2 separate regions of the Homo sapiens genome follow, and region 2 is linked to region 1. The links come from fine-mapping of genetic effects on gene expression. A gene starts in region 1. The other region holds a variant in brackets. All regions are shown on one strand. Distances are between the middles of the regions.

What was found. PIP is the estimated chance that this variant, and not a neighbour inherited with it, causes the effect.
Region 2: its variant is fine-mapped to the expression of MMP2-AS1 in whole blood (INTERVAL, PIP above 0.99).

What each region holds. Positions count from the first base shown.
Region 1 is chr16:55,459,835-55,464,834 of GRCh38, forward strand. It overlaps MMP2-AS1 (MMP2 antisense RNA 1), which reads right to left and starts at 2,463. Exons shown (of 7, transcript NR_147198.1): 1 at 2,341-2,463.
Region 2 is chr16:55,426,625-55,432,148 of GRCh38, forward strand. MMP2-AS1 (MMP2 antisense RNA 1) reads right to left here. Exons shown (of 7, transcript NR_147198.1): 5 at 2,737-2,856; 6 at 877-960; 7 at 173-346. Among named protein-coding and RNA genes, the nearest start is that of MMP2-AS1, 33 kb to the right of the region's middle. The variant C/T (reference allele first, on the strand shown) is at 2,465.

The sequences.
Region 1 (5,000 bases):
CAGCTCTCCCAGGCCCCACCCAGCTTCCCTCCTGCAGTGCTTATGCCCAGTTCATGCACCAGTCTCCAATCCAGCCATCTCCTCTCACCCCTGGCCCTCAGCTTCATTTGCCTGGGCCTGTGACACCCAAGGTCTTGGAACCCTATTAGGTTGGTGCAAAGGTAATTGTGGTTTTACCATTGAGTAAAACCACATTTACTTTTGCACCAATGTAATAGATGCTGAAAAAACGGCCTTGTTTGGGAGCTCAGGAAAGCAGCTGGCTGAATTCAGAGAGACAGGACTGACTGGGATCCCCACAATCCTCACTCTCCTGGGGAATGGCCCCTCCGAAAAGCACCCTGCAGCCCCCGGGCTGATTTCATTGGGATATGCAGGAAGCCAACCGCTCCTGCTCACAACAACTACTCAGCACTGACTGTGTTTCAGACACCATCCTCAGCATCAGATGAGCAAAATCTAACACTCTCAGATGCCATCTGAGGTGGGCTTACTGAATATCACCCTTGGAAAGATGTGGAATTGTAAAAGAAGAAAAAAGGACCTCCCTTTGCTAGAGTGGGATCTTATTTCCGGCAGCCAAAGAGGCCAGGGCTGAAAAACGCCCAAATGGCCTCTGAAGCAAAATCTCACGATGAAACAAGCCTCAAAAAGCATTTACTAGCATTTCTGGTCATGGCTGTTACGGATGAAATGGTGCCTCACCTTCTGCACCCCCTCTGGCCCCCACACCTTCTATGTTCCTATCTCAGGGATTCTCCACAGGGACCTGGAAGGACAGCTGAGTGGACCGAGAGATCACACGGAGCCACTGTGAGGGGTCAGGGGATAGGGAGAGTGAGCTGCCCAGGGTGGCTGCAGAGAGGGGAGCTTGGGGAACAGAGACCGCAGGGAGAAAGAGCTGAGTGCAGCCTGAGCCCGTGATTTTCAAGCCCCGCCGCTGGCCTCCTAGGGTTCTTGTAATCATACTCCGACTCCCTTCTCCTTAGTTAGTCTAAGGGGGCTTCTGTTTCTTGCTCCCAACTGCTGCCTCACTAAGATAGACTCATTTTCAGATCTCTCTACGGATTGTAGCCTTTCCTGCAATTCCTGCCTGGATGGCTGCTCCTCCAGGCCTGGACTGGATGGAAGGTTCCAAGCGAGAACCTGCAGCATTTCTGCTTCTGCGGCATCATCCACCTCTGAGAACCACTCCAGAGGACAAGCTGAGGAGCCTTCCAAGAGCTCCATGTGTCTGTAAATGCCTTCAAAACCTGGTCTCAGTGCATCCTTTTTGCACCCACAGCCAGATAGCTGACCACACAACATCAGGATAGAGTGGTCACCACCCATTTTCTGTCATGGGAAAGGAAATTGCCCGGGAAAGGCCTTGCCCAGTGCAGACATGGCAGGCAATGCTGAGAGCTACAAAATCCTTCTAGAAGCTGTTGTCTTTCAGTTATTAAGACTATAAGGGCTGGGCATGGTGGCTCACACCTGTAATCCCAGCACTTTGGGAGGCTGAGGTGGGTGGATCACAAGGTCAGGAGTTTGAGACCAGCCTGGCCAACATGGCAAAACCCTGTCTCTGCTAAAAATACAAAAAAAAAAAAAATGCGCATGCCTGTAATCCCAGTTACTTGGGAGACTGAGGCAGGAGAATCGCTTGAACCTGGGAGGTGGAGGTTGCAGTGAGCCGAGATCACGCCACTGCACTCCAGACTGGATGACAAAGCAAGACTCCATCACGGAAAAAAAAAAAAAAAAAAAGAAGGCAGGCTGCCTAGCTTAGCTTTGCCATGACTAATCTACTTACCAGCTAAGCAACATTTGTGCAAGCTATTTCACCTCTGTGTGCCTCAGTTTCTTCATCTATAAAATAGAGATAATCATTTTACACCCCTCAATAAATGTCTTTTGAATCAATTAATGAATACTTGTAAAACACCTGGCATATTGTAAGCCCTTGTTAAATGTAAACTTTAAATGTTAAATGGTTTCTTTCTTTCTTTCTTTCTTTCTTTCTTTCTTTCTTTCTTTCTTTCTTTCTTTTCCTGTTTCTGTTCTCTCTCTCTCTCTTTCCCTCTTTCTCTCTTTCTCTCTTGGAAGGTCTCACTCTGTTGCCCAGGCTGGAGAGCAGTAGTGCAATCATGGCTCACTGCCTACAACCCCACCGTAAGTCCCTCTGGGATTCCATGATAGAGGTACTTATTCCAATTAGGGTCAAGCTGGAGGAAGAGGCGGCTGTGGCCTAGCTGTCAATTCCTCAGGGCTGGTCATTGGGGAGGAAGGGCAGGAACCAGCTGAGTTCACTGAGAGTTGGAACAGGAGACGCAGAAAGGTACAGATTTGGAAACTGACCTGGGTATCACAGTTAGGGCTCCAGGGCACTCCAGCCTGCGGTGGGAGTTTGTAGGTGTCTAAGCTGTGGCTGGGAGGGCAGTGGAAGAAAGTCAAGCTGTGCCAATTTTCCTATTTGAAGAGAAAGGGAGCAGGGGAACCAGAGTTCTAGGTGACACCATCGGGAAGACAAGCTGTGTCCTCAGCCCGGCCTGGGGGGAGGACTGGGTTGCAACTTACAGGAAAGAGGATTGACTGGATTCTTAGAAAAACAAGAGCCAAGGCTTGTTGCTGTGCAGAGGGATTGGGGTCACCAGCTGGCTGTTGTTACCGTGACTGATTCCTGATGCTTCGGAATTCAAGGGCAGGAGGCACTTGGGGCACTGGCTGAACCTTGGCTCCCTGACCCCTCCTCAGTCCCCTTCCTGGGCTCCACAACATATAAGATGAACGTTCTGATTGTCTATTTCTCCTCCCTTCTCGTTTTACTCTTCATTTGGTGGAGTGTATGGTAGGGATAAAATCTTAGAGATGTTTATCTGAGCCATAGAGAGACCTTATTGGGGGTGCATGGGAAATACACAAGTAATCCCAAGCTCACCTTGCCTGGGTGCCTGCGGAGGGCAATTGTGCATTAGCGGTAGAGTGTGGTGGGGACCTGGGCCTGGGTGGGCAGGGGAGAGCTTCTGGACAGGGGCTGGTGGATTAAGGTCATGCCCATAGGTGGGAAGCCACCCACACAGAATCACAGCATCTCAGAAGGGCAGTGCCAGAAAAATCCCCAGGGACCTCATTTTCCTTGGAACACAACCCAATTCCTTGGCTTGGCCAACCAGGCCTAGCGCATCTGGGCCCAACTTCATCTGCCTTCATTCCTCCACTGCATCAGTAGGGTCATTTGGGTGTAGGCCACAGAAGTAAACTCTGGCAACATAAGCGAAGGGGGATTTGTTAGAATAGGATAAGGGAGCCAGGCAACTGGAGCAGACATCAAGGTGGGAACACCAGGCCTCAGGGTCCCGCAGTTGCTGTGCCTGGGCTGCCATTGTTCCATCTGTATCTATGTCACGCGAGGTCATATGAGTGGGCCGGGCACGGTGGCTCACGTCTGTCATCCCAGCACTTTCAGGTGGATCACCTGAGGTCAGGAGTTCGAGACCAGCCTGGCCAACATGGTGAAACCCTGTCTCTACCAAAAATATAAAAATTTGCCAAGCCTGGTGGTGGGCATCTGTAATCCCAGCTACTCAGGAGGCTGAGGCAAGCTAATTGCTTCAACCCAGGAGGCAGAGGTTGCAGTGAGTCGAGGTCATGCCATTGCACTCCAGCCTGGGTGACAAGAGTGAAACTCTGTCTCAAAAAAAAAAAAAAAAAAAAAAAACCATATGAGTGTCCCATTGGCTCAGCCTAGATTACAGCCCCACCCTGGCAGGGTAGTAGGAGGAAGGCTTAGAACTGTCTTGGCTTCTGAAGAGGGCAGGACAGTAACCCAATCCACCTTCCCAGAAACACTGTCCTCAGTGGGGAGGAGGGACAACTCCCAAGGAGATGGGGACACATGCTCGCCAACCAAACCCACAAAAGCTCATTGTGCCTGTCGCTCTGCTCCAGCCACAGTGGCCTTCTTCTGTTCTTCAAATACAAAAAAGCTTGTTCCCACCCCAGGGCCTTTGCACTTGCCATCTGCTCTACCTGGAACACTCTTCCCCTTGTTCTGCATGTGACTGCTTCATTTTCCTCCTTCAGGACTCACACCTAACAAGGGCCTCCAAGAGGCCCTCCCTGACGACCCATTCTCAAGTTGCCCTCATCAGATAATCTTGACCTCATCCCTCCCAGGTCTCCTAGCCATCTAAAATTACCTTGTGTATGAGTCTGTTTGCTCTGTATTGCCTGTCTCCCCACTGGAATGCAAACGCCACAAGAGCAATGACTGCGGTTAATTGCTGCTATATATCCAGCACTCAGCACAGGGCTTAATAAGCATTTACCAGGCAAATAAACATATAGAGACAGAGAGCCCCAGAGGGACGGTGCTTTGGCCGAGGATGCCCAGAGAAAATACTGATGTCATTGAGGGTGCAGAAGCCAAATCTTGCTTGCTCCGGGGGCACTGGATGGCACCAGCCTAAGAGTGTGGGCACCAGAGCAGATTGCCTGGGTCAACACTCACTCTCTGTGTAACCTTGAGTGAGTTTCTTAACTTCTCTGTGCCTTGGTATCCTCATGCATAAAGAGATGACCATAATAATAATGCATTCTCAGGGGCTGTGGCAAGGATCACATGAACTAATACATGTAAAGTACTTAGAACAGGGCCTAACAATATTGTAACACTGTCAACAAGTGCAAGCTATTATGATTGGAAGACTTCCATGTCCTTATTTCTGATTGACAGGTCACTGCCCAGCCCCACCCTCGACCCAACCAGGATGAAGAATGGGCAAGCCAGATAGCTACAGTAATCGACAGACAGACAAACAAGAGCATCGTATGACCCAGGGGCCAACAAGTCCCACCCCAGTGACACCATCTCACTTTTGCAGAGCTCTTGCTCGCAAAGTGCAGCTAGGAGAACCCAGGCCTCCTGATGACAAATGCTCCTTCTTTCTGCCCCCCACGTGCCAAGAGCGAGGAGGGAAGATAGCTGCTGGCTCACTGTGTGGTCGTGGGTGAGTACA
Region 2 (5,524 bases), 33 kb before region 1:
TCCTCTTTGGTGTTGACAAATCACTGTCAGTAAGTGACATTCTCCCTTAAGAAACCTATCTGACACAGAGCACAAGGCGTGATGGTTGTTCATGGATCAGCCAGATTGAATTAAGGTTCAATTTCAGGTTAGAATCAGCTGGAAGAGATGAGACCCCCAAAATAGCAGTGGCTTCAGCAAAACAGAGCTTTATTTCTCCCTGGCGGGATCTTCAGGCTGGTGGCCCAGGTTTGGAGCAGCAATCCTCAGGTGCAGGGACCCTGTGCCTTCTGCCTTGCCACTCAGCATCATCACTGCATTTCTCAAGGTGGCTGCTGGGGTGCCAGCCTTTATGGGCAGTTCCAGCCTGCAGGAAGGAGGAAAGTGGAAAGAAAGGTGCATCCGCCTAGTAAGGGTGCTCTCCAGAAGTTGCACACACCACTTCCACATATGCCCATTGACTAGAATACGGTTAAGTCACATGATCACATTTAACTGCCAAAAAACCTGGGGCAATGTAGTGTTTATTCCAGGCAGCCAAGGATCCACTTAAAAGCTAAGGGTGTTTCTTATGAAGGAAGAACTGAAAATACATATTAAGGGACAACAAGCACATAGATTGAGGGAGCCAACCAGGAACATCAGGAGCCTCAGAGAGTCCCTCGAGAGACGAGCTCACATGGTGTGCTGGTATTTATTGCTACATAACAGCTTACCCCTAAATTTGGCAGCCTGAAACAGCAAACATGTTATCTCGTGCAATTTCTGAGGTCAGGGGTCTAGAAGCAGCAGAGCTGGGTGGTGCTTGCTCTCTAGAAAGGCTGCAGTCAAGCTGTCTGCTGAAGCTGAAGTCATCTTAAGCTCAATTGGGGCTAGAAAATCCACTTCCAAACTGACCTCACAGGGTTGTTGCTGGAGGCTTCAGTTCGTTGTCTTGTGGGCCTCTCCATTGGGCTGCTCACAACATAGTAGTTTGCTTTCCTCAGAGCAAGAGATCCAAGGAAGAGAAGAAGGAAAAGAGGAGAGAGAGAGAGAGAGAGAGAGAGAGAGAGAGAGAGAGAGAGAAAGTCATCTAAAATGGAAGCCACAGTCTTTTCTAACCCTTCTGAGAAGAGACACGTCCTCTCATCTGCTGTTTTCTTTTTGGCCACAGAGCCCAATCCTGGCACAATGTGGAGGAGGATATGAATCCCAGGAGGCAGGGATGACTGCAGGCATCTTGGAGGCTGACTACCAACCATGGATAGGTAAATGAGTGCCAGGAGTTAGGAGATCACACCTCGGTAGAGAGAGTTCCTTGAGCCAGGAAGACTATGCACAGGCTCAGGAAGGCTGGCTGGGCCTAAACAGAAGTGGGTCAAAGGTTAAGGAGTATGTCTCAGTCTATTTGGGCTGCCATAGCAAAATGCCATAGACTGGGTAACTCATAAATAGCAGAAACTGATTCCTCACAGTTCTGGAGGCTGGGAAGTCCAAGATCAAGTTACTGGCAGATTGGGTGTCTGGTGGGGGTCCATTCCTCATAGATGGCATCTTCTTGCTGAGTACTCAACATGACAGAAGGGGTGAACAAGCTCCCTGAGGTCTCTTTTATATGGGTACTAATCCCATCCATAAAGGCTCTGCCTTCAAGACCTCGTCACCTCCCAAAGGCCTCACCTCCTCATTTCATCACACTGGGGATGAGGTTTCAACCACTAATTTTTGGTGGGAGGAGACAAATATTTAGACCTTAGCAAAGTACAACAAAATGTTCCTGTGGTTGCTTTCTGATATTCACCCAATCACCCTGAAGGGACAAACCTTTCTACCACTTCAAAGAGGGAGACAATCTTACTAGCATGTAATAATCAGCACTGTTACCCACAGCTCAAGCCCTCACCCTAGAAACAAAGCCAAGACCACTAAGTGGGTAGGTGTCCTGGCTAAGTGTGGACACAGGGCACAATCAGAGATGTGAACACACAAAGAGCTTCACCAGCTTCTCACAGACCCTGCTTGCCTTTCGAAGTGATGAATACACATGGCCTGGTCATTCCAGAGACTAATAAGACCCCTCTGGCCCATTACCTGAAACTGGGGACCCAATACCATGCAGATGGACTGAGTCATTACAAAGGCAATTAAATGCCCAACTCCATAGCCAGGTGCCAACATGTAGGCTTTTGTGCATGGATAACTTAGTTCTTTCAGGAGGGGAAGAATCTTTAGTCTTATTTTCTCTCAAGCCTGGGGTTAATTGGGAAGCCAGCTTCGGTGACTAGTACACAGAGGCTAATTTGTACAACCATTGCTCACAAGTGGGTGGGGGGGATGACGGCAAAAAAAAATAAAAATACAACATTGCTGGAGACAGTCTGCCATTGAATTGGATCTTAATATTCTAGTCCATGAACCAGCGGTTGCACTAGAGCTTGGTTAAAAAAAAAAAAAAAGCAGGAAAAACCCACACACATTCTTTCAATTTCTAAAGGGAAATTTGACT[C/T]GGGCTGTAGAACAAAGGACGAAGAAATAGAAGTAAAAGAAAATCAAAGAAAAAGTTATTTGGATTCAAGGGGATCAGATGTTTCATTTATTGCAGGTTGGAGACCTTCAATCAGCCAAATGAAAGGAACATTTGTATTAAAATACCTATGAGGCAGAGAGAAAGCCTTGATCGGGTGCAGCAGAGTTAAGTTACAGCAATCGTGCTGAGAGATATGAACCCACCTTCGAGGTTATCTGTTCCCAATATTGAAGGTTTTCTGTGTTACAAACCTGAGATGAAAGGTAGTTGTTTTGACGTCTGGGTCTGGAAGGCAGACGCTGAAATTAGCAGCATTCTTGATGTGTGTGCAGCAGGAACATGGAGCCCGGGATGGGGTGAAAATGTAGCTGCTTTATTAAAAGGAAACGATGTTAATGCAACACTAAGTGCCCAAGTCACCCATGAGGGTAGGGTGTAGATGGGGATTACAAAAACACCTTCTGAGAAGGGGCAGAGAAGGAGCACTGCACTAGGGGTCTGGGACCAAAGGTATAGCCCCTCCTCTGACCCTGGGTTGGTAGCTCCAAAATAGCTGGGACTTAGCCTGTCTAGTTCACAGTGCCAGGCATATAGGAGGTGTTTGATATATGTCAAACAAATGCATGAATGAATAAATGAATATGAACTTGGGCCTCTTTGGACCTAAGTCTTACAAAATAAGGAGCTGGGACTAACTATGGATTTCTCCAGTGGGATGAATACCACTGATGGTTGGGCAGCACATGGATGGGTTTGGGTGACATGCAAAGACATGGTATTAAACAGTACTAACTCAGAGAGAGAAAGGTATCACTTCTGGACTCTTTCTAGCCTCTGACTCCCTCTAAGAGAAAGTCTCAATCCAATGCTAACATCTCTTTAACACCTCTGCAATGTTTTCAACCCTCTCTTCATAATGATAAGAGGGGAAGGCCCAGGCTCACATCCTCAGCAGGCATCAGCATCCAACTCCATTTCATAACTTGATTTATTTCCTTTGTACTTAATTTCACAGTTGCCTTTCTATGTATGGCAAGTGATAGTTTTTCCTTGGCAGAACTGATCTTTTTAGGGTTTCTTTGTCAGACAGATGTTTCTAAGTAAGCACGAATTGATGTAAAGCCACCATTAAGGAAATAACAGCTCAAGTGGGATGCAGACAAGGAAAATATCATGATGATGAGAGATGGTTTGGAAAAAAAAAAAAAGAAATTGTCCCAGCTGACCTTGAAGGTCTCTTCTGGAAACACTGAGCATCTGAAGTCTAGGACTCCACTCTTCTGGTTTATGTAGAGCAAATCCAGCAGTCTCTAGCAAAGAGGTGACTGCAATCCGAACCTTTGGAAGATGGGCCTATTCATGTATCCATTTATTCATTCTCTCAATAAGTATTTATCAAGAGCATATTATATGTGCACTGCTGTTCCAGGCACTGGGATAGTAGTGAAAGAAAAATAGGGAAAAAGTCTCTGCCCTCATGGAGTTTCTGTTTTAGTGGTTTGAGGCAAGACAGGGACCAGGGCAGGTAAATGAGGCACTGAGGGTGTGTAATGTAAGGAGGCACCTGGTCTCAGGACTGCGCATGACCTTGACCTGACTTGAGACGAGTTTCCCATCCTGACCGTAACCTGGCATAGTTGTCATCATTCTGGGGGCCACAAATCCTGTCCCTGGAGGGTCTGGTGTAATTGCTCTTTGGTGGGTCCCCAGACTAGTATCTGGGGAGAGCAACAAAGATTATTCCCATCCACTTCCAGGATTGAGAACCACTGACATGGACCAAGAAACCTTCAAATTTTTTGATTTGGCACTTTTCAAAGGCATCAACCTTCTTAGTCACTAAGTCGATCTTCACTTACCAAATAAATTAACTAATGAGTGAGTTGGTATGTTGTCACTCACCATAATGACAAAAATACTCCTGTCCTCTGCCTCCTTACCAGGTGTCAGGTAATATCATTCACTTTTTTTTTTTTAAATGAAGTCTCGTTCTGTCTCCCATGCTGGAGAACAGTGGCCAGATCTCGGCTCAATGCAACCTCCGCCTCCCAGGTTCAAGTGATGCTCATGTCTCAGCCTTCCAATAGCTGGGATTACAGGTGCGCACCACCACGCCTGGCTAATTTTTGTATTTTTAATAGAGATGGGGTTTCGCCATGTTGGCCAGGCTGGTCTCAAACTCCTGACCTCAAGTGATCCACCTGCCTCAGCCTCCCAAAGTGCTGGGATTATAGGCATGAGCCACTGTGCCCGGCTTCATTCACTCTTTACATTTCTTGTTTCATTCCATCTTCACAATCACCTACAAGATAGGTGTTATTATCATCATCACCCCCTTTTGAAGATGAGGACACTGAAGGAAAGAGAAGTTAAGGAGCTTAACCCCAGCCCAACAAAACTTGCTAACTTTACCCAAGCTAACTTAGCCAAAGAAAACCCAGAAGGGCCATGCTCCTAACCCCTGTGCCCTACTGCTTCTCTATGGGATGAGTCTCAATGCCTGGGGACTTGGTCACAGGAGTTACAGCAAAGAGAGTGCATGTGAAAATGAGTGAAGTAAGGAGTCCTTTGTACCTTAAAGATAGCACATAGGAATAATTGTCACTTCCACCAAAAAATGTGTTCCTTCTCATTCTTCTCCAAACATGAGTCTAATTCTAGGTTCATTTTGCTTCCATGTCTGTTAAAGCCACAGCCATACAACTGTGGTCCTCTATATAAGAAAAAAGCAACAGTGCAAGCATGGTATTACATAACAACACATCCCCTGGTATTGGGGAAGTCTTGGGGCATGGTGGGGAGTGTGGCTAATTGGGAAGAGGAGCCTGTCCAATGTCTCCAGATTTCCTGACTTATCAAAAGAAATAAGAAATTTAGATTTAGTTGAGCCAGGCGCTGTGGCTCACGTCTGTAATCCCAGCACTTTGGGAGGCCAAGGCGGGCAGATCACGAGGTCAGGAGATCAAGACCATCCTGGTTAACATGGTGAAACCCCATCTCCACAAAAATACAAAAAATTAGCCAGGTGTGGTGGCGGGC